Linked DNA regions of Homo sapiens: regions 1, 2 and 3 are each linked to region 4. The links come from fine-mapping of genetic effects on gene expression. A gene starts in region 4. Each other region holds a variant in brackets. All regions are shown on one strand. Distances are between the middles of the regions. Region 1 has its middle 12 kb from the start of USH1G. Region 2 overlaps CDR2L (cerebellar degeneration related protein 2 like). Region 3 overlaps TMEM94 (transmembrane protein 94). Region 4 holds the start of KCTD2 (potassium channel tetramerization domain containing 2).

Evidence for each region.
Region 1: its variant is fine-mapped to the expression of KCTD2 in whole blood (INTERVAL, PIP above 0.99).
Region 2: its variant is fine-mapped to the expression of KCTD2 in whole blood (INTERVAL, PIP above 0.99). The same link has a PIP of 0.9 or more in lung.
Region 3: its variant is fine-mapped to the expression of KCTD2 in whole blood (INTERVAL, PIP above 0.99).

What each region holds. Positions count from the first base shown.
Region 1 is chr17:74,907,290-74,915,381 of GRCh38, forward strand. No RefSeq gene overlaps it. Among named protein-coding and RNA genes, the nearest start is that of USH1G, 12 kb to the right of the region's middle. The variant C/T (reference allele first, on the strand shown) is at 4,300.
Region 2 is chr17:75,002,394-75,010,495 of GRCh38, forward strand. CDR2L (cerebellar degeneration related protein 2 like) reads left to right here. Exons shown (of 5, transcript NM_014603.3): 5 at 790-3,407. The coding sequence ends at 1,681. Among named protein-coding and RNA genes, the nearest start is that of MRPL58, 6.2 kb to the right of the region's middle. The variant G/A (reference allele first, on the strand shown) is at 4,921.
Region 3 is chr17:75,457,826-75,465,927 of GRCh38, forward strand. All of the region lies in intron 1 of TMEM94 (transmembrane protein 94), which reads left to right. Among named protein-coding and RNA genes, the nearest start is that of TMEM94, 5.2 kb to the left of the region's middle. RefSeq lists a silencer at 2,060-2,109. The variant CA/C (reference allele first, on the strand shown) is at 4,088.
Region 4 is chr17:75,042,167-75,050,268 of GRCh38, forward strand. It overlaps KCTD2 (potassium channel tetramerization domain containing 2), which reads left to right and starts at 5,059. Exons shown (of 6, transcript NM_015353.3): 1 at 5,059-5,423; 2 at 7,054-7,162. The coding sequence starts at 5,085. It overlaps ATP5PD (ATP synthase peripheral stalk subunit d), which reads right to left and starts at 4,803. Exons shown (of 6, transcript NM_006356.3): 1 at 4,759-4,803; 2 at 363-493; 3 at 15-111. The coding sequence starts at 484. RefSeq lists enhancers at 4,270-4,339, 4,278-4,863, 4,748-5,042 and a silencer at 4,740-5,169.

The DNA.
Region 1 (8,092 bases), 130 kb before region 4:
AAGCCCCTCACTGCCGGGGGCCCGGCGGCGCTGGTGACCGCTCCGAGTGCGGGGCCCGCCAAGCCCACGCCCACCTGGAACTCGCGCTGGCCCACAAGCGCCGTGTGCAGCCCCAGTTCCCGCCCGCACCTCTCCCTCCAGACCTCCCTGCAAGCTGAGGGAGCCAGCTCCGGCCTCGGCCAGCCCAGAAAGGGGCTCCCACAGTGCAGCGGTGGGCTGAAGGGCTCCTCAAGTGTGGCCAGAGTGGGCGCCAAGGCCGAGAAGGCACCTAGAGCAAGCGAGGGCTGCAAGGGCTGCCAGCACGCTGTCACCTCTCAATCCCCCCTGTAAACAGGACACCCCAACTGCTGTTGGGAATTTGGCCAATGACCGTTCTAGCTACTTCCTGCTGGATAGGGGTGATGAAGGGGCCCTGCAGCTGCAGTGTCCTCCAGAGGGGTGCTCTCTAGGCCAGTAAAAGTGCCAGCGGGTCAGTCCAGGGGTCCTCAGTAGAAGTTGTTAGTTGAACTCATTTGGGGTTCCATTTGTAAGACCATCTGTAGCTTGATGGCCTCGATTCTAGAGGAAACAAATTTGACAAGAAGGTTAAAAATACAGGGCCCAAAGGCAAGTAACAGCAAGATGGCTGCCATGGGACCTACAAGGAGAGAAGCCATGTTGCCCAACTCCAGAGGTTGGTATAAGAATTTGAAAGGCATTGCCTGATTTCAGAAGCCTTTTCCTGTAAACGCCAGGTGGCATCTCTTACTATCCCTGACTGGTTAGTGTAAAACCAACACTCTTCCCCTAAGAAGGTGCAGAGTCCTCCTTTCTCAGCAGTGAGGAGGTCTAGGCCTCGGTGGTTTTGGAGAGTCACTGCTGCCAAAGAGTCTATTTGGAATTGTAGAGTAAGAATAGATTTCGTTATTTCTTGCAAACTGTCTGAGAAATCCTTTGAGAGTGTGTGGTAGTAGGATAATGAAGTAGATAAACCAGCTATTCCAGTTCCTGTAGCAGTAGCCATTCCTAACCCTATAATTAGGGGTATTAGTTGTATGGCTCTGCACTGACGGACTTGAGCTTTGAGGGGTACTGATAAAAGTCTGATTTCCTGGGGCAATGTTAATGTTGGGACTTAGAAAGACTAAGGTGCCAGTGCCGGTCCAGTTAGTGGGGAGGCAGATATAGGTCGATGTTCCACATAAGAAGAATATGCCTTGGCTGGGTAGGCAGAACTTTACCTGGCTTTTAAAGGAATAGGGTACACTGTTTTTTCTTTACTATTTCTATCTCTCTCTTTCTCTCTTCGACTTCTTCTTTGTCTCTCTCTTTCTCTCTTTCTCTCTGACTCCCCCTTTGTCTCTTCCTCTCTTTCCTTCTTTTTGTCTCTGTTTCTTCCTCTCTCTTTCTCTGACTTCCTGTCTCTTTCTCTCTTTCCTTTCTGCTGCCTCTGCCAGCTGCTTATGCTGCTGTTCTCCTCTCTCCTCCAGACATGCTGCCTTTAAGAACTGTAACACTCACCGCGAGGGTCCACGGCTTCATTCTTGAAGTCAGTGAGACCAAGAACCCACCAATTCCTGACACATTTTGGCAACCTTGAAGGGACTATCACCTATCACCAAGCGGTGAGACCATTGTGTATCACTGAGTGAAGGGACTATCACCTATCGCCAAGCAGTGAGTACCATCGGACCCCTTTCACTTGCTATTCTGTCCTATTTTTCCTTAGAATTTGGGAGCTAAATACCGGGCACCTGTCGGCCAGTTAAAATCCACTAGCATGGCCACCGGACTAAAGACACGGATGTCAGGCTTTCTGGGAAAGGGCTCTCTAACAATCCCCTACTCTTCGGAGTTGGGAGCGTTGGTTTGCCTAGAACCAGCTTCCACTTTTCCTGTACTTCTGGGCTGAGCCAAGCGTTGACAGAGAGGAAAGCCATGCAGCTCTGGGGTCCCAACAACAAGTTGGTTGACCCTGTGGCCATGAGCAGAACTCTCAAAGGCATGTTGCCCAAGCAAGACTCGCCCATCTATCCTATCTATCCTGACCCTTGTCCCCTGGGTCCTAATGCTTGCCAGACAAACTTCCTCTCACCTATCTTCTCCAAGGTTAGTCCTGCTTCTAAAAATCACTACCTGTCTCTGGTGCTTTTCTAGTTTCTCCTATAAGAATGACTTCTAGTATAAACTCTGTTACCTTCTTTAGGCACCCAGGCTCACCAATCAGAAAGACATAATTTTTGCCCAAAGCCCCATCATAGTGGGACTACCTGGAAATTTAGGATCCCTTCTCAGACAAACAGGCCTAACAAAATCTATTCCTGAAGCTAGGATATGGGGAGCCTCAGAAATTGTATCCTTCCTGTTCATATAAGTGAGGGCAAAAGGTGTCACTCTTCCAACCCTGGAGATCCCTTCCCTCCCTCAGGGTATGGCCCTCCACTTCATTTTTGGGGCATAACATCTTTATAGGACATGGGTAAGGTCCCAATACTAACAGGAGAATGCTTGGGACTCTAACATGTTTTTGAGAATGCGTCAGTAAGGGCCACTAAATCCTATTTTTCTCAGTCCTCCTTGTGGTCTAGGAGGACAGGGAAGGGTGCAGGTTTTCGAGAATGCATAGGTAAGGGCCACTAAATCCAACCTTCCTCGGTCCTCCATGTGGTCTGGGAGGAAAGCTAGTGTTTCTGCTGCCGCGTCAGTGAGCACAACTATTCTGATCAGCAGGGTTCAGGGACCGTTGCAGGTTCTTGGGCAGGGGGAGAAACAAAAACCAAAACCACGGGCGGTTTTGTCTTTCAGATGGGAAACACTCAGGCATCAACAGGCTCACCCTTGAAATGCATCCTAAGCCATTGGGACCAATTTGACCCACAAACCCTGAAAAAGAGGCGGCTTATTTTTTTCTGCACTACGGCTTGGCCCCAATAGCCTCTCCCTGATGGGGAAAAATGGCCACCTAAGGGAAGTACGAATTACGATACTATCCTGCAGCTTGACCTTTTCTGTAAGAGGGAAGGCAAATGGAGTGGAATACCTTATGTCCAAGCTTTCTTTTCATTGAGGGAGAATACACAACTATGCAAAGCTTGCAATTTACATCCCACAGGAGGACCTCTCAGCTTACCCCCATATCCTAGCCTCCCTATAGCTCCCCTTCCTATGAATGATAATCCTCCGCTAATCTCCCCTGCCCAGAAGGAAATAAGCAAAGAAATCTCCAAAGGACCACAAAAACCCCTGGGCTATCAGTTATGTCCCCTTCAAGCTGTAGGGGGAGGGGAATTTGGCCCAACCTGGGTACATGTCCCTTTCTCCCTCTCTGACTTAAAGCAGATCAAGGCAGACCTGGGGAAGTTTCAGATGATCCTGATAGGTACATATATGTCCTACAATGTCTAGGGCAAACCTTCGACCTCGCTTGGAGAGATGTCATGCTGCTGTTAGATCAAACCCTGGCCTTTAATGAAAAGAATGTGGCTTTAGCTGCAGCCCAAGAGTTTGGAGATACTTGGTATCTTAGTCAAGTAAATGATAGAATGACAGCCGAAGAAAGGGACAAATTCCCTACTGGTCAGCAAGCCATCCCCAGTATGGATCCCCACTGGGACCTTGACTCAGATCATGGGGACTGGAGTCATAAACATCTGTTGACCTGTGCTCTAGAAGGACTAAGAAGAATTAGGAAAAAAGCCCATGAATTATTCAATGATGTCCACCGTAACTCAGGGAAAGGAATAAAATCCTTCTGCCTTCCTCAAGCAGCTACGGGAGGCCTTAAGAAAATATTCTCCCCTGTCACTCTAATCACTCGAGGGTCAACTGATTCAAAAAGATAAGTTTATTACCCAATCAGCTGCAGATATCAGGAGAAAGCTCCAAAAGCAAGCCCTGGGCCCTGAACAAAATTTGGAGGCAGTATTAAACCTGGCAACCTCAGTGTTCTATAATAGGGACCAAGAGGAACAGGCCCGAAAGGAAAAGCAAGATCAGAGAAAGGCCGCAGCCTTAGTCATGGCCCTCAGACAAACAAACCTTGGTGGCTCAGAGAGGACAGAAAATGGAGCAGGCCAATAACCCGGTAGGGCTTTTTATCAGTGTGGTTTACTAGGACACTTTAAAAAAGATTGTCCAATGAGAAACAAGCTGCCCCCTCGTCCATGTCCACTATGCCGAGGCAATCACTGGAAGGTGCACTGCCCCAGAGGATGAAGGTTATCTGGGTCAGAAGCCCCCAACCAGATGATCTAACAGCAGGACTGAGGGTGCCCGGGGCAAGCACCAGCTCATGTCATCACCCTCACTGAGCCCCGGGTA[C/T]GTTTAACCATTGAGGGCCAGGAAATTGACTTCCTCCTGGACACTGGCGTGGCCTTCTCAGTGTTAATCGTTAATCTCCTGTCCTGGATGACTGTCCTCAAGGTCCATTACCATCTGAGGAATCCTGGGACAGCCTGTAACCAGGTAGTTCTCCCACCTCCTCAGTCGTAATTGGGAGACTTTGCTCTTTTCACATGCCTTTCTTGTTATGCCTGAAAGTCCCACACCCTTATTAGGGAGGGATATATTGTCCAAGGCTGGAGCTATTATCTACATGAATATGGGGAACAAGTTACCCATTTGTTGTCCCCTACTTGAGGAGGGAATCAACCCTGAAGTCTGGGCACTGGAAGGACAACTTGGAAGGGCAAAAAAATGCCTGCCCAGTCCAAATCAGGTTAAAAGATCCCACCACTTTTCCTTATCAAAGACAATATCCCTTAAGGCCTGAAGCCCATAAAGGATTACAGAATATTGTTAAACGTTTAAAGGCTCAAGGCTTAGTAAGGAAATGCAGCAGTCCCTGCAACACCCCAATTCTAGGAGTACAAAAACTGAAAGGTCAGTGGAGACTAGTGCAAGATCTTAGACCCATCAATGAGGCAGTAATTCCTCTATATCCAGTTGTACCCAACCCCTATACCCTGCTCTCTCAAATACCAGAGGAAGCAGAATGGTTCATGGTTCTGGACCTCAAGGATGCCTTCTTCTGTATTCCCCTGCACTCTGACTCCCAGTTTCTCTTTGCCTTTGAGGATCCCACAGACCACACATCCCAACTTACATGGACGGTATTGCCCCATGGGTTTAGGGATAGCCCTCATCTGCTTGGTCAGGCACTGGCCCAAGATCTAGGCCATCTCTCAAGTCCAGGCACTCTGGTCCTTCAATATGTGGATGATTTACTTTTGGCTACCAGTTCGGAAGCCTCATGCCAGCAGGCTACTCTAGATCTCTTGAACTTTCTAGCTAATCAAGGGTACAAGGTGTCTAGGTCGAAGGCCCAGCCTTGCCTACAGCAGGTCAAATATCTAGGCCTAATCTTAGCCAGAGGCACCAGGGCCCTCAGCAAGGAACCAATACAGCCTATACTGGCTTATCTTCACCCTAAGACATTAAAACAATTAAGGGAGTTCCTTGGAATTACCGGCTTTTGCTGACTATGGATCCCCAGATACAGCAAGATAGCCAGGTCCCTCTATACTCTAATCAAGGAAACCCAGAAGGCAAATACTCATCTAGTAGAATGGGAACCAGAGGCAGAAACATCCTTCAAAACCTTAAAGCAGGCCCTAGCACAAGCTCCAGCTTTAAGCCTTCCAACAGGACAAAATTTCTCTTTATACGTCACAGAGCAGGGATAGCTCTTGGAGTCCTTACTCAGACTCGTGGGACAACCCCACAACCAGTGGCATACCTAAGTAAGGAAATTGATGTAGTAGCAAAAGGCTGGCCTCACTGTTTAACGGTAGTTGCAGCAGTGGCCATCTTAGTGTCAGAGGCCATCAAAATAATACAAGGAAAAGATCTCACTGTATGGACTACTCATGATGTAAATGGCATACTATGTGCCAAAGGAAGTTTATGGCTATCAGACAACTGCCTACTTAGATACCAGGAGCTACTCCTTGAGGGACTGGTGCTTCAAATATGCACATGCGTGGCCCTCAACCCTGCCACTTTTCTCCCAGAGGATGGGGAACCAATCGAGCATGACTTTTATGGTCCAGACTTATGCCACCCGAGATGATCCCTTAGAAGTCCCCTTAGCTAATCCTGACCTTAACCTATATACCAATGGAAGTTCATTTGTGGAGAATGGGATATGAAGGGCAGGTTACGCCATAGTGAGGTAACCATACTTGAAAGTAAGCCTCTTCCCCCAGGGACCAGGGCCCAGTTAGCAGAACTAGTGGCACTTACCTGAGCCTTAGAACTGGGAAAGGGGAAAAAGAATAAATGTGTGCGGACTTGGAGAAACTTTACGTCTAGCTAAGGGATTGTAGATACACCAATCAGCACTCTGTGTCTAGCTCAAGGTTTGTAAATGCACCAATCAGCACTCTGTGTCTAACTCAAGGTTTGTGAATGCACCAATCAGCACTCTGTATCTGGCTAATCTGGAGGGGACTTGGAGAAGCTTTATGTCTAGCTAAGGGATTGTAAATACACCAACCAGCACTCTGTGTCTAGCTCAAGGTTTGTAAATACACCAATCAGTGCTTTTCGTCTAGCTAATCTAGTGGGGAGTTGGAGAACTTCTGTGTCTAGCTCAGGGATTGTAAACACACCAATCAGCACCCTGTCAAAACAGACCAATCAGCCCTCTGTAAAACAGCCCAATCAGCTCTCTGTGAAATGGACCAATCAGCAGGATGTGGGTGGGGCCAGATAAAGGAATAAAAGCAGGCTGTCCAAGCAGCACTGGTAACCCGCTGGGGTCCCCTTCCACACTGTGGAAGCTTTGTTCTTTCACTATTTGCAATAAATCTTGCTGCTTCTCACTCTTTGGGTCTGCACCGCCTTTATGAGCTGTAACACTCACTGCGAAGGTCTGCAGCTTCACTCCTGAGGCCAGCGAGACCATGAACCCACCGGGAGGAATGAACGACTCTGGACGGGAGGAAAAAACAACTCCAGATGCACCACCTTAAGAGCTGTAACACTCACCGCGAAGGTCTGCAGCTTCACTCCTGAAGCCAGCGAGACCACGAACCCACCAGAAGGAAGAAACTCCAAACACATCCGAACATCAGAAGGAACAAACTCCGGACATGCTGCCTTTAAGAATTGTAACACTTACCGTGAGGGTCTGCAGCTTCGTTCTTTAAGTCAGTGAGACCAAGAACCCACCAATTTCGCATACACTGGGACCACAAGTGCACACCACCAACCAGGTTAATTTTTAAATGTTTTGTAGAGATAGGGTCTTGCCACGTTGCCCAGGCTGGTCTGGAACTTCTGGGTTCAAACAATCCACTCACCTCTACCTCCCAAAGTGCTAAAACGTCCCTTTTTTTTTTTTTTTTTTTTTTTGAGACGGAGTCTCGCTCTGTCGCCCAGGCTGGAGTGCAGTGGCGCAATCTCGGCTCACTGCAAGCTCTGCCTCCCGGGTTCACACCATTCTCCTGCCTCAGCCTCCCAAGTAGCTGGGACTACAGGCGCCCACCACCACGTCAGGCTAATTTTTTGTATTTTTAGTAGAGACAGAGTTTCACCATGTTAGCCAGGATGGTTTCGATCTCCTGACCTCGTAAATGTCCCTATTCTTGATCTAAATCTTTAGGGAAATGAGTCATGAAAGTTGAGCCCCTACCATGTAATATTTTCTCCTCTTTGCTTGTGTTGAACATCCCCACAGGCTCCCTGGAGCAGCTCCTGCTCCTGGCACCCCAGGCTTCTGCCCTGGAGCCACACTGACCCATGGAGCCCCTCATCCTGCTGCCTCTGGTTCATCTCTGCTGGGATGCCAAAGTGCCCCTCGGCTCTCTGTCTTGTCATTCCTCACCCGTGTCCTCTTCTGGACCATCGCGGCAAGGACCAGTGAGTCTTTCCTGAGGTGGGTGCAGTGACCAGGATGGCCAAAGAAGCCGCAGGGAGGTGCGCCCCCAGGGCATGGCTGGTGGAATCCTGTTGTGTTAGCGCCCTTGGCAGCCTGAGTGTGAGGAGAGCATGGCAGCAGCCAGAGACCCGCGTTCTGGGTCTGACTCTTCCCCTCTGTGGGCCTCAGTTTTTCCATCTGTAAAGTGGAGGGAGGTGGCTTGGAACCCCTGGATGGTTGCTAGGCAACCTT
Region 2 (8,102 bases), 40 kb before region 4:
GCTGCCACTATGCTGATATAATTCTTATTGCAACACTGTTGGGGGTGTTTTATTATGCCTACTCTCCAGATGATAAAACTGAAGCCCAGAGGTTGTGTGTCTTATCCAAGGTCACCTGTTTAGTAAGAGGCTCAGCCAGCATGCTAACCCAGGAGGGGTAACCCACTGTGCTTTTCAGTTCCCATTAAATCTAACACTAGACAACCACTTAATAATGGAAAAATACATGTGTCATATGTAGTGGGTGTTTCAATAAGGGTCCTGGCAGGAAACAGTCTCTTACACAGAGTAATGGAGAAGTTAAATGAAGAAGAGGTGTGGGCAGGGGGTAGGGAAACCACAGGGACACTATAGTGCCCCAGGGTTGCAGCAGAGAGGAGCTGCCACCAGCCCTAGGCCTCAAAGCGCAAGGGGGAAGGGAGGTTACCGGCACCTGGAAGGTATGGAGAAGGCTGCCTGGTCACCATTAACCATGGAGAGCCCAAAGAAGACACACCCCACGGCCTCTGCTCCCCCCTCGGACCTCTAGCCAGTGCCTCTCATGGGCCAAGCTCAGGAGAGAACCAGGCAACCTGACAGAGGCGGTCCGTAGTGGTCAGCCTCCGGGGGCAGAGAGCAGGGGGAGAAGGGTGGAGGAGGGTGGAGAGCCAACGGAGAGGGGCAAACAATTTCAGCCCAGAGAACAAGAGAGATGTAAGCGCCCTGGCTGGGCTGCTCGGCCTTGGCCGTGCCCGTGACCACTGCCCTCTCCTCCGCCCCCACCCCGCTGCGACTCTCACTACCCGCCAGGTGCAAGGATGCTTTCCGCCTACACAGTTCCTCCCTGGAGCTGGGCCCGCGGCCCCTGGAGCAGGAGAACGAGCGGCTGCAGACCCTGGTGGGGGCGCTGCGCTCCCAGGTGAGCCAGGAGCGGCAGCGCAAGGAGCGGGCGGAGCGCGAGTACACCGCGGTGCTGCAGGAGTACTCGGAGCTGGAGCGCCAGCTGTGCGAGATGGAGGCCTGTCGCCTGCGTGTGCAGGAGCTGGAGGCCGAGCTGCTGGAGCTGCAGCAGATGAAGCAGGCCAAGACCTACCTACTGGGTCCGGACGACCACCTGGCCGAGGCCCTGCTCGCACCCCTCACGCAGGCCCCTGAGGCCGACGATCCCCAGCCCGGCCGCGGGGACGACTTGGGCGCCCAGGACGGGGTCTCCTCACCGGCAGCCTCTCCAGGCCACGTGGTGCGCAAGAGCTGCAGCGACACTGCGCTCAACGCCATCGTGGCCAAAGACCCAGCCAGCCGGCACGCGGGCAACCTCACACTGCACGCCAACAGCGTGCGCAAGCGGGGCATGTCCATCCTGCGGGAGGTGGACGAGCAGTACCACGCGCTGCTGGAGAAGTACGAGGAGCTGCTGAGCAAGTGCCGGCAGCACGGGGCCGGAGTGCGGCACGCCGGCGTGCAGACCTCGCGCCCCATCTCCCGGGACAGCTCGTGGAGGGACCTGCGCGGGGGTGAGGAGGGCCAGGGTGAGGTCAAGGCAGGAGAGAAGAGCCTGAGCCAGCACGTGGAGGCCGTGGACAAGCGGCTGGAACAGAGCCAGCCCGAGTACAAGGCGCTCTTCAAAGAGATCTTCTCCAGGATCCAGAAGACCAAGGCTGACATCAACGCCACCAAAGTCAAGACGCACAGCAGCAAGTGACCCTTCTCCGGCCTGCAGCCTCCCCCAGGGTGGAAGCCGTGGGGTCCCTCAGGCCTGGGCGGTGCAGCTTCCAGAGAGCGAGCGCCCTTTAGCGGCCTGCCACCACAGCACGCGGCCTCCTGATCCGGAAGCACGCAGCATGTTCCCTGCTGAGCGGAGGCAGCCCACCTGTCCTGCCTCCCAGGAGCCCTTGGCCACCTCGCGCCAGCCCAAAGGCGCAGCTCTGAGTTCAAAGCCAAATGTCCCCACTACCCCAGGGATCCCCCAGCTCCCCCAGCCCCTGGCTTCCTGACCCTGCGCCTCACCCTCAGACTGGTGACCAGGCTTCTGAAAGCCATTCTGGATCAGTTGGCTTTTTTTTTTTTTTTGGTTAAGTTTGTTTTTTCTAAGAGATTTGCAATGCAAGGTCTCCTTGACCCCTTGCCACAACTGGAAACACTTGAAAGGGGACCCCAGGGCCAGCTGTTTCAGGGGTTTCCTGGACCACCCACTGCTTCTCCCCAACCCTGATGCGCTGACATTCCCTTAGCACCAGCTGTCCCACCTCCAGGGTCCTGACCAGGTCAGAGATGTCCCCTGCCATGCAGAGCAGGAAGCCTCAGCTGGGCCTGGAGTGTCCCTGCTCCAGCCCTGCCAGGGACAGGTTTCTCCCTGGATACTCTTGGCCCACCGCAGATCTGTAGCCAGTCAGAGGAGGAGGAGAAGGAGCCCCTCAGCAGAGTGGTGCAGTTTCGCTCAGAGCTTGTCTCCTTGGCTTCCAACCCCAGAAATGCCTGCTGGGCCTTAAGCTTTCCAGGGGCCGGGGCAGTGGGGAGCCCCCATCCCTTCACACCGCCACCAACTAACCAAGCTTGGCCTCTGACTCCCGTCTCTGTGCTTGCCCCCATCTCAGGGACCATGATGTCTCAGTCACTCCACGCTCCCCACAGGCCAACCCTGGCACAGGTCATGTCTGCAGCCCCCAGAATGTTCTGGACATGCACCACCAGCCGGTGGTCCCAATGTCCACCCCTGCCTCCCCTTCACTGGGGACTGGGGTTTTCGCCCCATGCTGCATCGTGTTGTATTGGGATGGGGCTGAGGAACATGCTCCCTCCCTCCCTCCCATAAAATGCCTGCTCTTCACCTCCCACCTTTGTGGGGGGCTTTTGAGGACCCAGCTGCGTCAGGAGTTTTGCTTCAAGATGTCAGAAAGTCAAGTTCAGCTAAGAGACACCCAGGTCCCCAGCTTGCCCTGAGCAGCCCTTCAGGGCTTCTGGTTCCTTCTGCCGCCCTTCCTGAGACCTTAGAAACCAGAAGAGCCATACAGTCAGTGGAAGGCGGGGGGGCCCTGGCCTCTGCACCGGGATCCCAGTGGGAACCTTCATGCCTTATTTATTTCTAATGGGTAAAGGGGTTTTCTTACCAAGCATCCCTGACCTCCTGGAGACACCACCTGCTTTCCGGGCGGCACTGTGATGGGAGCTGGTGGCGACTGAGTCCTTCTGTACGTGCAACTGGGAAACTTTTGTCCTTTGAGGCTAGGCAGCTCCCTGCCCTCCGTGTGTGTCTGTTATCTGGGGGAGAGGAGTGTGGAAGGGTTGGGGGAAGAGCTCCAGCCTGTCTGCTCCCCAGCTCTGTAGTGGCAGACCAGCGTCACCTTTGAAGTATACGTGAGAGAAATATATTTACAAATGCTTTATTCTCTTCTTTAATAAAAAATGCACCAGTATTCTAAAAGCAAAAATGGCCCATCTCTGTGCATCTCACACACCTGCCTCGCGTCACGCCCAGCCATGGGAGAGGGTAACATCCTGTGTCCCACTTCCCTGAGACTGAACAGCTCCAAATAGCAGGCTCTGGCAGAAGTTTCTATATTTATTGAGGGCCAGCTAGGGATACATGGTGAACAAGCCAGCAGGGCCCCTCTTCCCTTGGAGTTTATATTCTGGTGTGGGGAGATCCACCCAAAATAAACAAACAAAAGATACGGCATGATGGAAAAATCGGGGCAAGAGGGTAGTGCTACCTCAGCTAGAGCACGTGGGCCCAACAGGGTGAACCAAGTTAAAAAAAAAAAAAAAATCGGCCTGGCGCGGTGGCTCATGCCTGTAATCCCAGCCCTTTGGAAGGCCAAAGTGGATTGCTAGAGCCCAGAAGTTTGAGACCAGCCTGGGCAACATAGCAAGACCCCCTTTCTACAAAACATTTTTTGAAAATTAGCAGAGCATGGTGGTGTGCATTTGTAGTCCCAGCTACTCAGGAGGCTGAGGTGGGAGGATCACGAGCCTGGGAGGTCAAAGCTGAAGTGAACTATGATCATACCACTGCACTCCAGCCTGGGCAACAGAGCGAGACCCTGTCTCAAAAAATCATATCTAGATATATAAATACAGCACATGAAGAGATATACAGTGTTACTAAAATTCCTGGGGGAGCAATTCGGAGAAAATGTCTAAATAGGCTCTTTGAGGTAGGAAGGGGGAGCGATCATGGAAAAAAAAGATTGAGAAATGCTAAGCGAGGGTGGTCAGGGCACCTCTGGAGAGGTGATGATGAAGCTGAAACCAGAAGGCTGAGGAGGAACCAACGGGAAGATAAGTGGAGGCCCAGGGAGCAGCTGGGGCAGTGGGGGGTGGCCAGAACAGAGGGTGGAGGCCAGGCTCCTAAGAGCCCGGAAGGTTCAGGGGAGCTCGGGCCTCCTAAGTGCAATGAGACGCCACGGCAGGAAGTCCAGGGCCAGACTGATGCCCTGAAGGACCATGAGGGATGGGGAAGTTGACCTGCCCTTGGTGAGCCACCCATTGATGACACAGGACAGTCACAGGAATGACAAGAGGGCCATCTCCTGGTGTTTTTCAAGCTGATAAACCCCATATCTCTCTTCCATATACATGAAAAACCTCACCACTCCCATTCTTCCTCAGATATCTGTCTCCTCCCCATGTTATACAGAGGACGGTACATAGAGGGGTTCATCTTCTGGAGGGGTCCCCATCACCAAGATTACACCAGCCTCCCTCTTGTTCTGGAAGTGCCGTCAATCCGTTGGGTTTTCTGTTTTCCTCAATGCAAAATGATAGGCCGGGCGAGGTGGCTCATGCCTGTAATCCCAGCACTTTGGGGGGCTGAGGCAGGCAGATCATGTGACATCAAGAGTTCGAGACCAGCCTGGCCAACATGGTAAAACCCTGTCTCTACTAAAAATACAAAAATCCTAGCTACTTAGGAGGTTGAGGTGGGAGGATCACTTGAACCGG[G/A]AAGAAGAGGTTGCAGTGAGCCGAGATCGCACCACTGCCCTCCAACCTGGGTGACAGAGCAAGACTCCGTCAAAAAAAAAAAAAAAGCAAAATGATAGCGGTTTTTCAAACTTCCCATGCTCCACTCAGCCCTCTCCAGATTTAGTAATGTCCATCCTGAACTTAAGAATTGCTGTCCAAGAAAAAATTAGCCAGGCATGGCGGTGGCCGCCTTTAGTCCCAGCTACTCGGGAGGCTGAGGCAGGAGAATGGTGTGAACCTGGGAGGCGGAGCTTGCAGTGAGCTTAGATCGCGCCACTGCACTCCAGCCTGGGCGACAGAGTGAGACTCCGTCTCAAAAAAGAATTGCTGTCCAAGCTCAGATACTGGAAGCCTAGAAACAGGACTGTGGATCCTGATCAAAGGGGGCACCTCTAGGGTATCTTCCTTCGCCTCACACTGCCAACGCTACCCACCCCTTCTCGCACCAGCAGCCTGGGTGGACCTTTCCGATGGGGGACTTCCAAAACCAGAGAGGAAAATGCTCCTGAATCTTTGAGGGGTTTCTTGCTAGCTTCACTCTCTCGTCTCCAGACAAAAAAAGGCAGCTCTGTGGACTCCAGTTCCACCAGCCCACACAACCTGAGTCTGTGGAAAAGCTTCCAAAGTCTTCTAAGGGAGGTAGACTCAGGGGCCAGCTGGAACTGGGGGGAAATGCAGGCTTCTCCCCAAAACTCCTTCCCCAAATGTCCTGATGGGGAACAACTTCCCTTGAACTCAGGAGGGGAGGAAAGTGTGGTGTGGGGCTGGGCATGGTGGCTCATGCCTGTAATCCCAGCAATTTGGGAGGCGGAGGCAGGAGGATCACTTGAGCCCAGGAGTTGGAGACCAGCCTGGCCAACATGGCAAAACCCCATCTCTACTAAAAACACAAAAATTAGCCAGGCATGATGGTGTGTACCTGTAATCCCAGCTACTCCGGAGGCTGAGGTACAAGAGTTGCTTGAACTCAGGAGGCTGAGGTTACAGTGAGCCTAGACCACACCACTGCACTCCAGCCTGGCGACAGAGTGAGACTCAGTCTCAAAAAAAAAAAAAAAAAAGTGTGGTGTGGCAAGCCCAAGGCTGGGCCCCAAACTGCTGTGCTTAGTACATCAACTGAACAGCATGGGGCTTTTACAAGGGCAGCGTGCAAGTGGCTGTTGGGTTTTCCCATCCTGTTGTCACCTGTCGTCACCAGGATGGGGAGCAGGTGGTGGTGACCACATGGAGCAGTCACACCTGAGAGACGAAGGAAGCCGTGGCGTGAATCCAGCCACCCTTTTCTCCCTCAGCCTTTTTTTTTTTTTTTTTAGACAGGGTCTTGCTCTGTTGCCCAGGTTGGAGTGCAGTGGCACAACTGTAGCTTACTCGGCCTCCAGCTCCTGGGCTAAAGTGATCCTCTCTCTTCAGCCTCTCCAGTAGCTGGGACTATGCTGGCTAATTTTTTTTTTTTTAATTTTTTGTAGGGACCAGGTCTTGCTATATTGTCCAGGCTGGTCTTGAACTCCTGGGCTCAAATGATCCTCCCACATTGGCCTCCCAAAGTGCCGGGATTACAGGAGTAAGCCACCATGCCTGGCCTCCCTCAGCTTTCTAAACCGCCCTCTGGATGCATTTCTTTCCCTTCTTCCCTCCTTTCTTTCCCTTCTTCCCTCCTGATCACCACTTTGTCCTTGCTCTGTGGACAGATACTCCCTGCTGCAGGGAGCTCCTCCCCGCCCCCCGGCCCCTGCCCCATTCTCTCCTCCCCTGAACTGGCACCCTTCTCCTCTCCCAGGGCCAAACCCACCACCCCACTTAGGGAGGGCAGCTAGCCAAACAGACCTGCCTCTGCCCTCCCTGGGGATCCTGAGCTGAGAGCTGGGGGGTGGCCTCAGTTTTAGGGGACCAGGCAGATAAGGGGTAGCAATGAAGGAAGTACTTTCCAGGGAGAGGTGGGCAGCTCTGTGCTGCCCATCCCCTCAGGGAAGAAGGAAAGAGGGTTGGAATACAGCTCGTCAGACTGGATTTCCCACTCCAGGGCTACAGAGGAAAAAAGACAACAGTAATCAGGTGTCTGAAAGAAAAGTGTCCCTTAAGGAACCTGCATGCACATAGCATCCCTTAGCAGCAGCTAATTTTTGTTGCCTGCTGACTTCATGCCAAGCACTGTGTTAAGTGTTTTATATGTGTTTACTATCCTCAGGAACTTTATGAGATGACTATAAAATCTCCATTTTACTGATGAGGATACAAAAACTTAGAGGTCAGGTTAGTAATTCAAGGTCACATAGAAATATTCAAACTCGGCTGGGCATAGTGGCTCATGCTTATTATCCCAGCACTTTGGGAGGCCAAGGTAAGTGGATTGCTTGAGCCCAGGAGTTCAAGACCAGCCTGGGCTGGTAGAGACAAGAAACCTTGTCTCTACAAAAATACACAAATTATCCAGCACATGCCAGTAATCCCAGCTACTTGGGAGGCTGAGGTGGGAGGATAGCTTGAGCCGGGGAGGCCGAGGTTGCAGTGAGCCGTGATCATACCAGCACTCCAGCCTGAGTGACAGAGCGAGACCTTGTCTCAAAAAATAATAATAATACAATTTTAAAATGAAGTCATAGTCACAGTTACCAGCAGTTAGGACATGGACACATTTTTCTATTTTTTTAATAAAAAAATAAATATTTAAACTTAGTCCTGACCAATCCACCATGCCTCATTGCACATTCCCTATCTACACATAATGATGAGTTTTGTTTTGTTTTGTTTTGTTTTGTTTTTTGACGGAGTCCTGCTCTGTCACCCAGGCTGGAGTGCAGTGGCACAATCTCAGCTCACTGCAACCTCCACCTCCTGGGTTCAAGCGATTCTCCAGCCTCAATCTCCCGAGTAGCTGGGATTACAGGTGCATGCCACCATGCCCAGCTAATTTTTGCATTTTTTTAGTAGAGATGAGGTTTTGCCATGTTAGCCAGGCTGATCTTGAACCCCTGACCTCAGGTGATCCACCCACCCTGGCCTCCCAGAGTGCTGAGATTACAGGTGAGAGCCACCACACCTGGTCAATGATGAGTTTTAAGAGGCCATCTGGTGGGGCATGGTGGCTCATGCCTGTAATCCCAGCACTTTGGGAGGCCGAGTGAGCCAGGCGGATCACGAGATCAGGAGTTCGAGACCAGCCG
Region 3 (8,102 bases), 420 kb after region 4:
GCTTGAGTTCTTTATCCGCTAGACCTAGTTGTTTCCTAGGTGTGACCTGAGGAGATCAAGTTCCCTGACTCCCCTGAGCTCTTGCAGGGTGGCTCTGGGCATTAAAAGCGATGGGCATTAAAAGTAGGATCCTCCTATGCTTCCTGGCAATGACTAGGGTCTTCATACCTGGTTTGCATTCAGTAATTTTAAGAAGCCAGCAGGTAGTTCTCTGGCAGACTTCTTGTATTAATATTCATTGTAGTCTCTGTCTGTATTGGGGGCGTAAATTATTTTAGTGATTCTCAGGGCAGCGAGAGGCAGAGTAAGAGGAAGGTATGCCTCTTCCTTGGTTTTTGGGAACCATTACAGTGTCATTAGAGATGTTATTAACAGGAACGCGTTGCATACAGGAACAGCGTGGAGGCAGAAAAAGATTGAGAGCCATTGAAGAGAGAAGAAATGGCACTGTGGTATCTCTTTATAGTACTTTTGGCAAAAGAAGAGCTGATCTTGGTATTCTGAAGAGGTAGTTTAAAAAAAAAGTTAGATCCTGAGGCATAACTAAAAGAATACAAATAAATAAAAAAATTTAAAGCAATGGCACTAGTAAGGTTCAAAAGAGTCAAAGTAATGCCTGTAATCCCAGCACTTTGGGAGGCTGCTGTGGGAGGACTGCTTGAGCCCAGGAGTTTGAGATCAACCTGGGCAACACACTGACAAGAAAACCAAAAAAATTAGCTGGGCATGGTGGCATGTGCCTGTGTTCCCAGCTACTTGGGAGGTGGATGCCAGAGGATCGCTTGAGCCCAGAAGGTCGACGCTGCAGTGAGCTGTGATCATGCCACTGCACTCACTCTAGCCTGGGCAACAGAGCAAGACTCTGTCTCCAAAAAAAAAAAAAAGAGTCATGGAATCAAAAAGTTTGAAAATCACTGTAAAGATCAGAGCACATTAAAATGTAGACTATTGGCCGGGCGCAGTGGCTCACGCCTGTAATCCCAGCACTTTGGGAGGCAGAGGCAGGCGGATCACGAGGTCAGGAGATCAAGACCATCCTGGCTAACACGGTGAAACCCCATCTCTACTAAAAATGCAAAAAATTAGCTGGGTATTGTGGCGGGTGCCTGTAGTCCCAGCTACTTGGGAGGCTGAGGCAGGAGAATGGCGTGAACCCGGGAGGCAGAGCTTGCAGTGAGCCGAGATCGCGCCACTGCACTCCAGCCTGGGCGACACAGCGAGACTCCGTCTCAAAAAAAAAAAAACAAAAAAAACAAAAACAAATAAAATGTAGACTATGGTGGTTAACCCTAGAACAGGAGACAGCATGTTCAGATAAAATCCTCAAACATTGCAAGTCTTAGCTGCTATGTTAGCTCTAACTTCCTTGCTCACTGGTTCTCTTTGTCAAAACTGCAAACAGGGAAACTGGTGGATACTGTGGAGTAGTGCAATGACCAGGGAGGTGAAGTACAAACCATCTTCTTCATCATCAGCCCCCAAATAATTGAGAGTTAACTGCCCTTGAACCACCAGACCACCATGCCCCTTGTTTGTGGTGACTTGACATCAGATGAGACTGGGAGAGCCAGGCCTTGACAGTGAAATGGAAGAGAAACCCCATGGCATTTCTATTTTGAGAAGTTGCTAGGTGTGCCAGCTCCTAGTGCTGAGAACCAGCCTTTTGGAAACCTTAACTCCTGTAGAAACTAATGAGAAATGAAGGTTGTGATCGTCCTGTTCCTGCCTGCTGCTCTCTCCCTAAGTTGGGCTTGAGAAACAGTTTCTATAGGAGAGGGAGGAGTCCTAATGTAAATACCACCTACACCCAAGGCTGTATGTATTTAGCTTAATCTGATGAATCAGGTTGAACTCGTACCTTAGCAGTCTAAGCCTGAACGCCATAAAGCCTTTAAGTCCATTCCTGGTGTTCAAGTGAGAAGGTTCTGGGTCAGGCGTGGCACTGGTTGGTAAATATGTGTCAATATTTCTTATCTTACTATTGTGTTAGTGTTGTTTTTACGATGGTGTCTTTCTTTACCCAAATGATAGGATTTAAAAATATTGTTTAAAGCCCGTTTCCAAGCAGGCCTGGGTTTGTTTATAGCAGCACAGGTGAACTAGAGGGTAGGCCATGGCTGAAACAGGAATGCTTTTCTTCCGAGCAGACCCGCCAGCCAGAATGTGTGGTTTGGTGATCAGGGGTTTGTGTAATAATAAGCTTTGCCTGTGGCCACTGAGACGGTAGTAAACAGTATGGGTCACATGGCATGACAAGTAGGTTAAGGGCCAGATTTAGACACTGATGGCCTGCGTAAGGAGGAGCAAACCACACACTGCTTGCTTTGGGTTTCTCTAGCTCCCAAGGCCAGAAGTGATGGGAGAGGGGTGAGGGGTGTCAGAGAGAAGAACCTTGAAAGGCTTAGAGTGGTATTTGAGGAACCATAAATTTTAGTGTACTATAATTAAATGAACCCAATTTTCATAACTTCAAGGGCTTCTTGAAAAAGGGGTTCATGGTACCAGTCTTGCTTGGTAGGGAGGTGAATAGAAAAATACTGGGAAACACTTAAAAAAGATGTATGCTGGACAAAGACTCAGGTGTACTGAAAGAGCGTAAACCTTCATTATGTTGACGTGAAAGCCAAGTAGGGAATGTTGCTTAGCTATAAGGCAGAGCCTATTGCAAAATCAGAATCAGGAGCTGCTGATTTTTTTTTTTTTTTTTGAGACAGAACTTGCTCTGTAGCCCATGTTGGAGTGCAGTGGTGTGATTACGGCTTACGGCAGCCTTGATCTTCTGGGCTCAGGTGATCCTTCCACCTTACCCCCTGAGTAGCTGGGACCACAGGCACATGCCACCACACCTGGCTAATTTTTGTATTTTTTACAGAGACGGTTCTTGCCCTGTTGCCCAGGCTGGTCTCAAACTCCTGTGCTCAAGGGATCTGCCTGCCTCGGCCTCCCAAAGTGCTGGAATTACAGGTGGCCAGAAGTTGCCGATTTTTAAAATTAAGGAAAAAAATACATAGTATAACATTTTCCATTGTAACCAGTTCTGTGGCATTAAGTACATTTGCATTGTTGTGCAACCCTCATCACTATCCATCTCCAGAACTTTCTTAGTTTCCCAAACTGAAACTCTGTCACCATTAAACATTTAACTCCCCATTTCCCCCCTGCTCCCACCCCCGGCAACCATCTTTCTACTTTCTGTCTCTGTGATTTTGACTATTCTAGAAACCTCATATAAGAGGAATCATACAACATTTGTCCTTTTGCGATTGGCTTTTTTTTTTTTTTTTTTTTTTTGAGACAGAGTTTTGCTCTATTGCCCAAGGCTGGAGTGCAGTGGTGTGGTCTCAACTTACTGCAATCTCCGCCTCCCGAGTTCAAGCAATTCTCCTGCCTCAGCCTCCGGAGTAGCTGGGAATATAGGTGCACACTACCGTGCCCGGCTAATTTTTGTATTTTTAGTAGAGCCGGGGTTTCGCCATGTTGGCCATGCTGATGTCGAACTCCTGACCCCAGATGATCCGCCTGCTTCGGCCTCCCAAAGTGCTGGGATTACAGGCATGAGCCACCGTGTCCAGCCTGAAGTTGCTGATCTTTTAAAGACATATTGGATACATTCACATGGTTTGAAAATCAAAAGGCACAAAAGTATATGTATTCAAGGGCAGAAAAAAGTATAAAAAAGAATTTTTTTAAAAAGTATATATAGTAAAAATTCTTCCTGCTCCCAACCATTCCCTAGCCACTCAGTTCCAATTTATTAATTTTTCCTTTTGTGGATTATGCTTTTGGTACTGAATCTAAGAAATGTAATCCACAGTAGGCCGGGCGCAGTGGCTCACGCCTGTAATCCCAGCATTTTGGGAGGCCGAGGTGGGCGGATCACGAAGTCAGGAGATCGAGACCATCCTGGCTAACATGGTGAAACCCCGTCTCTACTAAAAATTAGCTGGGCGTGGTGGCGGGCGCCTGCAGTCCCAGCTACTCGGGAGGCTGAGGCAGGAGAATGGCGCGAACCCGGGAGGCGGAGCTTACAGTGAGTCGAGATCGTGCCACTGCACTCCAGCATGGACGACAGAGCAAGACTCCGTCT[CA/C]AAAAAAAAAAAAGAAAAGAAATGTAACCCAAAGTCACAAAGATTTTTTCCTATCTCCTATATAAATTTTACAGTTTTTTTTGTTTTGTTTTGTTTTGTTTTTTTTTTTTTTGAGGCAGAGTCTTCTTGCTCTGTTGCCCAGGCTGGAGTGCAGTGGCACGATCTCGGCTCACTGCAACCTCTGCCTCCTGGGTTCAAGTGATTCTCCTGCCTCAGTCTCCCAAGTAGCTGGGACTACAGGCGCCCACCAGCACTCTCAGCTAATTTTTTTGTATTTTTAGTAGAGACAGGGTTTCATCATGTTGGCCAGGATGGTCTCGATCTCTTGACCTCGTGATCTGCCGGTCTCGATCTCTTTACCTCGTGATCTGTCAGCCTCGACCTCCCAAAGTGCTGGGATTACAGGCGTGAGCCACTGCGCCTGGCCTGAATGTCTTTTATAAGCAGAGTTGAGCATCTTTGCATATGGAGAAGCTATTGGATTTTTGGTTTCACATTCTCTCAGGGTTAGAATTGTCTTCCTACCCTCCACCTCATGTATTAATTATCTCCATAATTTCTCAGCTTCTGCTTGGTTCCCTCTAGTGATGGGAGCTCATTGCTTCACAGGGCAGCCTATTCCATTTTTAAAAATATACAGTTCTAAGGCTGGGCATGGTGGCTGACACCTGTAATCCCAGCACTTTGGGAGGCCAAGATGGGAAAATCGCTTGAGGCCAGGAGTTCGAGACCAGCCTGGTCAACATAAGTGAGACCCCATCTCTATTAAAAAAAATTAAAAATATACAGTTCTAGGCTTGACTCAGTGGCTCATATCTGTAATTCCGGCACTTTGGGAGGCTGAGGTGGGAGGATTTGCTTGAGCCCCAGAGTTCTAGACCAGTCTGGGCAACATAGCAAGACCTTGTGTCTACAAAAAAAAAAAAAGCTGGTCATGGTGGCATGTGTCTGTGGTCCCAGCTACTCGGGTGGCTGAAGTGGAAAGATTGTTTGAGCCCAGGAGTTTGAGACTGCAGTTGCAGTTAGCCATGATCATGCCACTGCACTCCAGCCTGGGCAACAGAATGAGGACATGTCTCCAAAAATAAAAAAAGTAAAAAAAAAAAAAAAAAAAAAAAAAAAAAATATATATATATATATATATATATATATATATATATATATATACACACACACACACATATATATGTGTGTATATATATGTATATATATACGTGTATATATGTATATATATACACGTATATATATGTGTGTGTGTGTGTGTGTATATATATATATATATATACAGTTTAAATTATGTAGAAAGATACTGTACATTTTAAGTCTCAGTCTACTTCTTATAGCATCCTAGTTCCTGTTTTGGGGCCTCCCAGAGTAAGCCTGGCCCTTCTCACTGCTTGTAGCCATTATACCTTTCTAGCCCTGCTTGCACCCAAAGTGTGTTTTTAGGGTACTGGCTAAGCATCTTCAGTTCATTCTGCCATTTCTCACGTCTTAGTTTCTCCAACCTGGTTGCTGCTCTCTGAAATCCTTCCAGTTTTGTTAGTGTCCTTCTTAAAGTGTGTGATGCGCAACTGAACAAGATATTCCAGGTATGCTCTGACATGTACAGAAATCAGACTTCCTCGTCTGTTGTTAGGGACACAGGTATCTGTTAATGCAGCCTAAATGTGAATGAACTTTGAGTGAGCATACACTCATATTGAAATTGCATCTAACTAAGCCATTTGTGGTAGTTTTATACAGTAGTTTTTGAACCTAAGTGCAGGACTTAATATTTTTTCCAGTTAAACTGAACCCCTTTGATTTGGCCCATCACTTCAGCCTGTTGAGAGCTTCTTGGATTTTGACTTTGATCTCCTTTCCAGGTTTATGCTATCCAAGAATTTGATTAGCATACCATCTGTTTCCTCACCCAAGTCATTGATAAAAATATTGACTGTAATGCCACCAAGGATAGAATCCTACAGCTTGCTATTAAAAACTTCCCTCCAGCTTAACACAGATCTATCAATTAGTACCCTGTGGGCACAACTATTAAACCGAATACAGATCCACCTAACCGCATTTTTGGTGTGTTGGGCATGGCTGGCTTACAAGCACAGCTAATGAAGATTGTGCTAGAAGGGATTAGAAGGACAGCCAACTCCTCATCTTGCCCTCAACCTGAGCCTTGGGCTCCCACTTAGTTCTTTTTGACCTTGTTTCTGAGCTTGGCAGCAGGAGGCATCCACCCCTTTGTCTTCATGGCTACTGTTGCCAGCTTTGTCTAGATACTTGGCATGGCAAACCAAGATTATCATCATTTTCTTCTAACTCTTCTGCCTATAATTTCTTTCCTTTTCCCTCTGATCCATTTTCTACCCTCTTAAAATACTGAGAACAGCCTGGGCAACATAGACCCTGTCTCCAAAAAAAAAATTGTCAGGCATAGTGGCACATACCTGTGATCCTAGCTACTCGGGAGGCTGAGGTGGGAGGATCACTTGAGCCTGGGAAGTTGAGGTACAGTGAGCTGTGATCGCACCACTGTACTCCAGGCTGGGCAATAGGGTGAGGCCTTGTCTCAAACAAACAAACAAACAAACCTGGGGCCTACTCAGAAACCCAGACTCTTCAGTGACTCCTCAGAGCCTCTCCATTTTGGCCCCTTATCCCTGTGTATTTTTTCATTTTCTTTCTTTCTTTCTTTCCTTCCTTTCTTTCTTTCCTTCCTTCCTTCCTTCCTTCCTTCCTTCCTTCCTTCCTTCCTTCCTTCCTTCCTTCTTTCTTTCTTTCTTTCTTTCTTTCTTTCCTCTTTTCTTTCTTTCTTGAGACGGAGTTTCACTCTTGTTGCCCAGGATGGAGTGCGATGGCATGATCTCAGCTCACTGCAACCTCCGCCTCCTGAGTTCATGCGATTCTCCTGCCTCAGCCTCCCAAGTAGCTGGGACTACAGGTGCAGTCGGCTGATTTTTGTATTTTTAGTGGAGATGGGGTTTCTCCATGTTGGTCAGGCTGGTCTTGAACTCCCGACCTCAGGTGATCCACCCACCTCAGCTTCCCAAAGTGCTGGGATTACAGGCATGAGCCACTGCACCCGGCTCTTTTTGTTGTTGTTGTTAGAGACAGGGTCTCACTCCGTTTCCCAGGCTGGAGTGTAGTGGCGTGATCATAGCTCCCTGCAGCCTTGAACTCCTGGTCTCAAGATCCTCCTGCGTCAGCCATATTCTCAGTCTTTTTCATTTTAGTCGTTCTAATGGGTGTGTATTGGTCTCTCGTTGTGGTTTTAAATTTTTTTGTAAGACAGGGTCTTGCTATGTTGCCCAGGCTAGTCTCCAACTCTTGGCCTCAAGTCATCCTCCCCCGTCAGCCTCCCAAAGTGCTGAAATTACAGGCGTGAGCCACCATGCCTGGCCTTCTCATTGTGGTTTTAATTTTTGTTTCCCAATAATTAATGTTGTTGACCATCTTTTCATATTCATATTGACTGTTTATATATCTTGTGAAATGTCTGTTCAAATCTCTGCCTGTTTATTATTTATTTATTTATTTTAAGACAAGTTCTCACTTTGTTGCCCAGGCTGGAGTGCAGTGGCGAGATCATGGCTCACTGCAACCTCCAACTCTTGAGCTCAAGTGATCCTCCTGCCTCAGCCTCCCAAGTAGCTAAGACTGCAGGTGTGTGCCAACATGCCTGGCTGAAATCTTTGCTCATTTTAAAATTGGGTTGTTGGTCTTGTTACTGAGCTATAAGAATTTTTATATATATATATATATATATATATTTTTTTTTAATCCCAAAGACTTCAAAACTACTTTTGCTTTTTGAGACGTGATTTTGGTATGTTGCTCAGGCTAGACTCAAACTCTTGGCCTCTAGTGATCTGTCTGCCTCAGCCTCCCAAAGTGCTAGGATTATAGGCATGAACCACTGTGCCCAACGTCAATTTTTTTATGGCATATTTTGAAGAGTGGAAATTTTTTTTATTTTTATGGAACAATTTATCAGTTGTTTTCTTTTATTTGTTTGTT
Region 4 (8,102 bases):
GTGTGAAGTCTCACCTTCTTCTCAAAGTCATCCACCAAGCCAGCCTTGGCCACATTGGCCTTGTAGTAAGCCCAGTCGATAGCTGGTGGATTCTCAGGTAAAGCAGCCAACCTGCCCACAAGGAAAGGCAAAAGTTAGGATTGTTCATAAGCAGTAGAAAATTCACATGGTAATTTTCCTATCCCTTCTTCCTATGGCCTGGAGGGTCACCACACTTTCCTCTCCTAAGATCATCATGAAAATGCAAGGATTTCTTTATATGTTGTCATAAGGGCATCAAGAATTCATATGTAATTCCTTAATACTGTTTTGTTTCTAGATTCAGTGGCAAGTATGGGGTTCCCTCTCAGAAACATACTGACCTGGAGGTGAGGGTCTCATTCCAGGATTTCAGGGAACTAGCAATGGCCTTTTGGTTCTGGGGTATGATCTCTGCAAAAGCTACCCAGTCAATGGTTTTTAGAGCAAGTTTTCGCCCAGCCATTTTGGGATCCTGAAAAATAAGTCAAATAAAAACAAGGCTTTTTTATGAGGTGAATTTTCAGTTGGGAAAAATGATAAATAACAAAATAAGAGCTCTTAGAGAGAATCCTTTAAATCTTAGAAACATGCAAGTCTTCACAAGAATCACTTGAACCCAGGAGGTGGAGGTTGCAGTGAGTCGAGACTGCATCACTGCACTCCAGCCTGGGAGACACAGCAAGACTCCAACTCAAAAAAAAAGAAAAAAAGACAGTGTAGCTTTTCAAATTCAAGGTAATTCAAGGTGTGCGGCCAGGCGCAGTGGGCTCACGCCTGTAATCCCAGCACTTTGGGAGGCCAAGACGGTTGGATCACCTGAGGTCAGGAGTTCGAGACCAGCATGGCCAACATGGCAAAACCCCATCTCTATTAAAAATACAATAATTAGCCAGCCGTGGTGGCCCGCGCCATAATCCCAGCTACTCCAGAGGCTGAGGCATAAGAATCACTTGAACCCAGGAGGCAGAGGTTGTAATGAGCTGAGATGGCATCAGTGCACCCTAGCCTGGGCAACACAGCAAGAGTCCGTCTCAAAAAGAAAAGGAAAGGACAGTGTAGCTTTTCAAATTCAAAGTGTGCAATGTGGCATACAAATACATTCTCTCCCAACTCCTATTTAGCCTTAAAAGCCCAGCTCTCTTGGCCGGGCGCAGTGGCTCATTTCTGTAATCCCAGCACTTTGGGAGGCTGAGGTGGGTGGATCACTTGAGGTCAGGAGTTCAAGACCAGCCTGAGCAATAGGGTGAAACCCTGCCTCTACTAAAAAATACAAAAATTAGCCGGGCGTGATGGCATGCACCTGTAGTCCCAGGTACTCAAGAGGCTTAGACAGGACAATCACTTGAACCTGGGCGGCGGAGGTTGCAGTGAGCTGAGATAGCGCCATTGCACTCCAGCCTGGACACAGAGTGAGACTCTGTCTCAAAAAAAAAAAAAAAAACAAACCCCAGCTCTCTTTATCCCCTCCATGTGCCTCTGGAAAAATTACTAAAAATAACACTCTTATTGCATAAAAGTTAATAAAGACATTTCCACCCAGATTGTGTTTTATTCACTGATTCTCCAGTAGACAGAAACTGACACACACCTAAGTTTCAACAAGCCTTAAATAGAGCACTCTCTAGGCTAAAATTTACTTATGTGTACAATGGGCATTATCAGTCCTGCTTGCCCCAGAGGGCTGCTAAAAGTGTCACATGAAATTGTGCACAGCAACTTGCTCCAGAGTTTTACAAACTTAAAAGGGCTATCCCCTTCCAACTAGATTGGTAATACACCTGCACCTTCTTATTCACATCGGATTATACCCTAGCAGCACCAGCACACGTTGTGCACTTTTTTTTTTTTTTTTTTTGAGATGGAGTTTCACTCTGTCCCCCGGGCTGGAGTGCAGTGGCATCATCTTGGCTCACTGCAACCTCCACCTCCCAGGCTCAAGCGATTCTCCTGCCTCAGCCTCCGGAGTAGCTGGGATTACAGGCACCCACCACCACACCCAGCTAATTTTTGTATTTTTTTTTTTTTTTTTGAGACGGAGTCTCGCTCTGTCGCCCAGGCCGGACTGCGGACTGCAGTGGCGCAATCTCGGCTCACTGCAAACTCCGCTTCCCGGGTTCACGCCATTCTCCTGCCTCAGCCTCCCGAGTAGCTGGGACTACAGGCGCCCGCCACCGCGCCCGGCTAATTTTTTGTATTTTTAGTAGAGACGGGGTTTCACCTTGTTAGCCAGGATGGTCTCGATCTCCTGACCTCATGATCCACCCGCCTCGGCCTCCCAAAGTGCTGGGATTATAGGCGTGAGCCACCGCGCCCGGCCCTAATTTTTGTATTTTTAGTAGAGACAGGGTTTCTCCACGTTGGCCAGGATGGGCTGAAACTCCAGACCTCAGGTGATCCACCCACCTCAGCCTTGCAAAGTGCTGGAATTACAGGCATGAGCCACCGCGCCCGGCCTGCATTTTAAGAGGTATTCAACACATGTGAAAATGTGAGAAAAATACAGAAAACGACTACAGCCACTTAAAAAAAAAGTCAGAATATAGGAAAATAGTCCTCTTTAAGTAAGATCAGGGTCAGATATTAAAAGACTGCAAAGTCAAAAATCTCTATAAGCTTGGAGTGGAATGCAAGGGAGGCGGAAGCAGTCTTTCTCAGGATCTTCAAGAAAGTTGTCAAACACCTGTCCTGTCCTTCCTTTCTTTCTCAGGACAGCCTGTTTCCTGTTGTGGAGGGGAGGTGTTAAGGCAATTGGCATGTGATTTTAAAGTTACCAGGGAACCAAGCACCCTTACAGACTTTCCCAAACATCAGTGTATCGGGGAACTTGCCCCGATAGTCACATAGGTTCTTTTCTATTTTCCTAAGCGTCGACTGGCTTGACAGAGTACAAAAGAGAGAAATTTTAAAGCTGGGCGTCCGGGGGAGACATCACACGTTGGTAGGATCCGTGATGCCCCACAAGCCACAAAAACCAGCAAGTTTTTATTAGGGAGTTTCAAAAGGGGAGGGAGTATACGAATAGGTGTGGGTGACAGACATCAAGTACTTAACAGGGTAATAGAATATCACAAGGCAAGTGGAGGCAGGGTGAGATCACAAGACCACAGGACCAGAGCGAAATTAAAATTGCTAATGAAGTTTTGGGCACCATTGTCATTGATAACATCTTATCAGGAGACAGGGTTTTCAGATCAACCGGTCTGACCAAAATTTATTAGGTGGGAATTTCCTTTTCCTAATAAGCCTGGGATCGCTATGGGAGACTGGAGTTTATTTCACCCCTGCAGTCTCAACCATAAGAGACAGGTACGCCCCAGGGGGGCCAGTTCAGAGACCTACCCCTAGGTGCGCATTCTCTTTCTCAGGGATATCCCATGCTGAGAAAAAGAATTCAGCGATATTTCTCCCATTTGCTTTTGAAGGAAGAGAAATATGGCTCTGTTCTGCCCGGCTCACCGGCGGTCAGAGTTTAAGGTTCTCTCTTGTTCCCTGAACAATTGCTGTTATCCTGTTCTTTTTTCAGGGTGCCCACATTTCATATTGCTCAAACACACATGCTGTACAATTTTTGTAGTTAACACAATTATTACAGGGTCCTGGAACGATATACATCCTCAACTGACAGGATTAAGAGATTAAAGACAAGACAGGCATAGGAAATCAGAAGAGTATTGACTGGGGAAGTGATAAGTGTCCATGAAATCTCTACAATTTATGTTTAGAGATTGCAGTAAAGACAGGCATAAGAAATTACAAAAGTATTAATTTGGGGAACTAATAAATGTCCATAAAATCTTCACAATCCACGTTCTTCTGCCATGGTTTCAGCCGGTCTCTCTGTTTGGGGTCCCTGATTTCCCGCAACATCAGTGGAAAATGGAAGTCACAAATAACTTTGTGTGTGTGTGTGAGTGAGACGGAGTCTCGCACTGTCGCCTGGGCTGGAGTGTAGTGGCGTGGTCTCGGCTCACTGCAACCTCCGCCTCCCGGGTTCAAGCGATTCTCCTGCCTCAGCCTCCCGAGCAGCTGGGATTATAGGGGCCTTCCACCACGCCCAGCTAATTTTTTGTATTTTTAGTAGAGGCGGGGTTTCACTACGTTGGCCAGGCTGGTCTCGAACTCCTGACCTCGCGATTCGCCCGCCTTGGCCTCCTAAAATTCTGGGATTACAGGCGTGAGCCACCGCGCCCGGCGAAATTTTTTTTAATTCTTAAAAATCTATTGCTTAATCCCCAGCGCCTAGAACAGATCATGCGCATAGGAGGTGCTCAATGAATCTTTCTTGAATGAGTAACCGAACTCTGCACCCGAGGAGCCCTGAACGCTCTATACGTTCGAATCCTGGAAGCTGCCGAAGGGGAAGGGCGCAGCCCCGCAGCCAGCTGAGCGTCCCTCGGCAGGTTAACACTGTCTGCGTAATGTTTCCCCAGTCCCCCCACCAAACTATTGAAGTCTGCCGCGCTGGGAGCGGACTGCACGAGACACGGCTTGTGGCAGCGCCTACATCAGCGGCGCCTGGGACACAGCCGGGCCCCCCTGACCCCGCGCGCCAAGGAGGGCTGAGGAAGGGATCGCGGGGCGAGGAGCGGCAGCTACACAAGGGACACTCTGCCAGCGGGGCAAGCCGAGGGCCCAGCGTCCTTGACGGGGGCGTGACAAGGGTCGGCGTGAGGTTTGGAGAGGGCAGAGCAGAGGAGCCCTCCAGGGATCGGATCCAATGCCCCAAGCCCCACTCACCTTCACCGACCCTGGCTGCCCACGGTCCTCCGCAGCAAGTAACGGAAGTGGGTCACGGGAAGATCTTTCCTCAGCCAACCCCAAAGCCAAGGGGGTGGGCCTTGCTTCGCAGATCAGCCAATAGAGATGAGGGCTGGTTCCGGAAGTATCTTCCCGGGGGCGGGCACAGCGCCTCCCCCGCGCGGGTCCCCGGGCGCTGGTTGGGGGCGCTCCCGTCCCTCTCCCCTCTGCCCCACCCCCGCCGATGGGCCGGCCCGGCTCTCCCTGCCGAGAAATGGGCCGGCCCGGCTGCGCGCGGGCAGCAGCGGTGGCGGCGGCGGTCCAAGATGGCGGAACTGCAGCTGGACCCGGCGATGGCGGGGCTGGGAGGGGGCGGCGGGAGTGGGGTGGGCGACGGGGGTGGCCCAGTCCGCGGGCCCCCCAGCCCACGCCCGGCTGGCCCCACGCCCCGCGGGCACGGCCGCCCGGCTGCCGCCGTCGCGCAGCCGCTGGAGCCGGGTCCCGGACCACCCGAGCGGGCAGGGGGCGGCGGCGCGGCCCGCTGGGTCAGGCTGAACGTGGGAGGCACCTACTTCGTGACCACCAGACAGACCTTAGGCCGGGAGCCCAAGTCATTTCTCTGCCGCCTCTGCTGCCAGGAGGACCCGGAGCTGGACTCAGACAAGGTGTGCCCCGCCCTCGGGCGCGCCCCCGGGCCTTCGAACCCCCTGGTTTCTCGTAGATCGGTCCCCAGAGTCCTGAGACACGCTCCTCACAGGCAGCCCCCTCAGGCCGGGACCCCATCCTCCCCCTCCCTCCCACACTACTCGCAGGGGCCTCAGAGGGACCTCCCACTCCCCTTCTTCCATGCTGAGGCATACTCTGGCTTTCTCCCCGACCCCGCCCTTCGTTCTCTGAGACTCCTTCCCACACTGCGCCCACCTGCACCCACGAGAACGCACTCCACACCCCTTCTCCATATTCTCTGCCCCTGACATCCCACTGAGATCTGCATGAGTTTTCCCTGGCTCCTCTTCAGTCCCCCCACTGCCGGTGCCAGATGCATCCAGAACTGGGTCAGGGTTAGCTCAGGCATCCTTGTAGCTTTCTCAGACTCCCTCTCGGACCCCTCTGCCAAGTTGGGCTTCCACAGCTGCAGGAAGCGCTCCTTGTGATATCACACTGCTTTTCTATAGTCCTGGTCGCAGAACTTTTATCTGTTAACAGTCACTGGTTTAGGTCCATATTTAGATCAAATGCGTTTTTTGGAAAGAGGTTACTGTTTGCCGCTGCAAATCTAGGCTAAGACAGAAGGAAAATGAAAATTTTCCCGGGAAAATTTTGGGCAGGATGCATGGCTGCTAACCAAAGGGTTGAGAGGTGACAAGACACTTAAACCATTTCCAGTTTGAACTGTGTCAATTTCTTTTTAACTTTACGTATTCACCTTTAAGTTCTCAACTTAAAGGCACTGACCATAACTCACACCATCTTATATCCCATATAGCACTCAGCTGGTGACCTCAAAACAGAGCTGGAGTTGCGTAAACATTTGTTGTTTTCGTTTATTCCTCTTCTCTAAGAAATCTCAGATTGATGGAAACCTATCCTGCCCTAACTTTAAAGAGATTTCAAAACCCTTGCTTATAAAGGAATTATTTTTATCTACTCTATATCCTCCTTGTGGTAATAGAAGCCAGTTTCTTCTTGTTCCTTTTACTGTAAAGATGAGTAGGATTAAAGCTGCTCAGAGCCAAGTCCTGGCAGTACCGAGCTTCCTCTGGGCACAGAGCTGGGGTGTGTGAGATTACAGCTGGCAGTGCAAACTCCCACTGATGTTGGCCTTGAGCTCAGGAGCATTGCCAACTACACAGAGGTTTTCTTGGAATTAGGAATGCAGTTCAGAGGCAGTGGAAAAGTCAGAATGTCCATCTCAAGCAAAGATTTCAGTTACACAGCTACGGCATTTTCTCCCTTTCTTAATAACAAACACGCTACAGAAGAATGTTTGTCACTGTAATTATTGTCCAGGCAAAGATTGCAAATTCCAGCCAGTAAGTAAACGCCTAAATGAGTATGACTGTCTGTAACACCCTACCTAAGATGATCTTAATGTACAAGATACATAAAGCTATAGCTTTCTTACCAATAGTTTGTGACAAATGTGTAACAAAATTTGCCATCACTAAAGTCTTTTTTAGCTGATGGAATGAATTGTTGTCTTGGGGCGCTGACAAAGATGGTGAAATCCTGCCCTGCCTTTGTTTAAAATACTCCTCAAAGGTCCACAATGATACCCTTGTGTTTGGTTGGCAGGATGAGACAGGAGCCTATCTGATTGACAGGGACCCCACCTACTTTGGTCCTATCCTCAACTACCTCCGCCACGGGAAACTCATCATCACTAAGGAGTTGGCAGAAGAAGGTAAGCGCACTGTTTGCATTGGGGATTTTCAAAATGCAAGTAGAATCTTTAAAGTTGTTTTACAGATTTCAATTTTGTTTGACATTTTCATCAGGCGCATGTGCAGGTATAGTTTCAGGTTTATGAAACAGAGCAGAAACTACCAGTCTTGTCTGAGGGAGTCATGATTAAGGAAGCCTCCTTAGGCTTTGTTCAGCTTCCTGGGTGAGAAGGAAGATAGGTAGCTCCGCTTTGCAGATAACTTCAGGAGTTCTTTCCGAATCTCCAGAATTGTCACGATCCTTTTTTTACATTTGTTTGTGTGCTAGCAGTGAGTGTCTGTAGTCTGAAGAAGCAAGACATCTCTGACATTCAATTATTTATAGTTTTAATTTTGGTTTGAACTCACAGTTGTACAAAAATAATAAAGGCTTGGCCTCATTTCTTTTAAGACTCTGGCCTCATGCTTCCCTGTAAATGTTTGCAGCTGACCTAATTCATTCTCTAGTTCATTGTCAGGTGTATCATTACTTGCCTCATCTTTGTGGTTTGTAGGGCATTGGGACTATAAGTGGGTCTAGTCCACTTTCTACAAGGCTTGGCATGGTCCCACTGAAGGCATTCAGTTGTAAAGGGGACTGTCCCTAAATCCAGGGCACCCTGATCTGGGAGCTTTGGCTCTGAGTAAGAAAGCTTGTAATGGCTGTACTAGTTAATGAAGTGACTGTGAAACAACTCTGTTTCAGCTAGTAGAAAGAGGAATTGCTCTCTCTCTCTTTTTTTAAATGTCCCTTTTTAAACAATATTTCAAACGCATACAGAAGTAATGGGAATAGTACATACAGTGAATTCCTTGCATCCACTATCCAGCTTCAACAATTACCAACTCATGGGTGATCTTAATCTTATTTATTTTTCTTTTTTAATTTTTGTAAGTACCTAGTAGGTGTATATATTTATG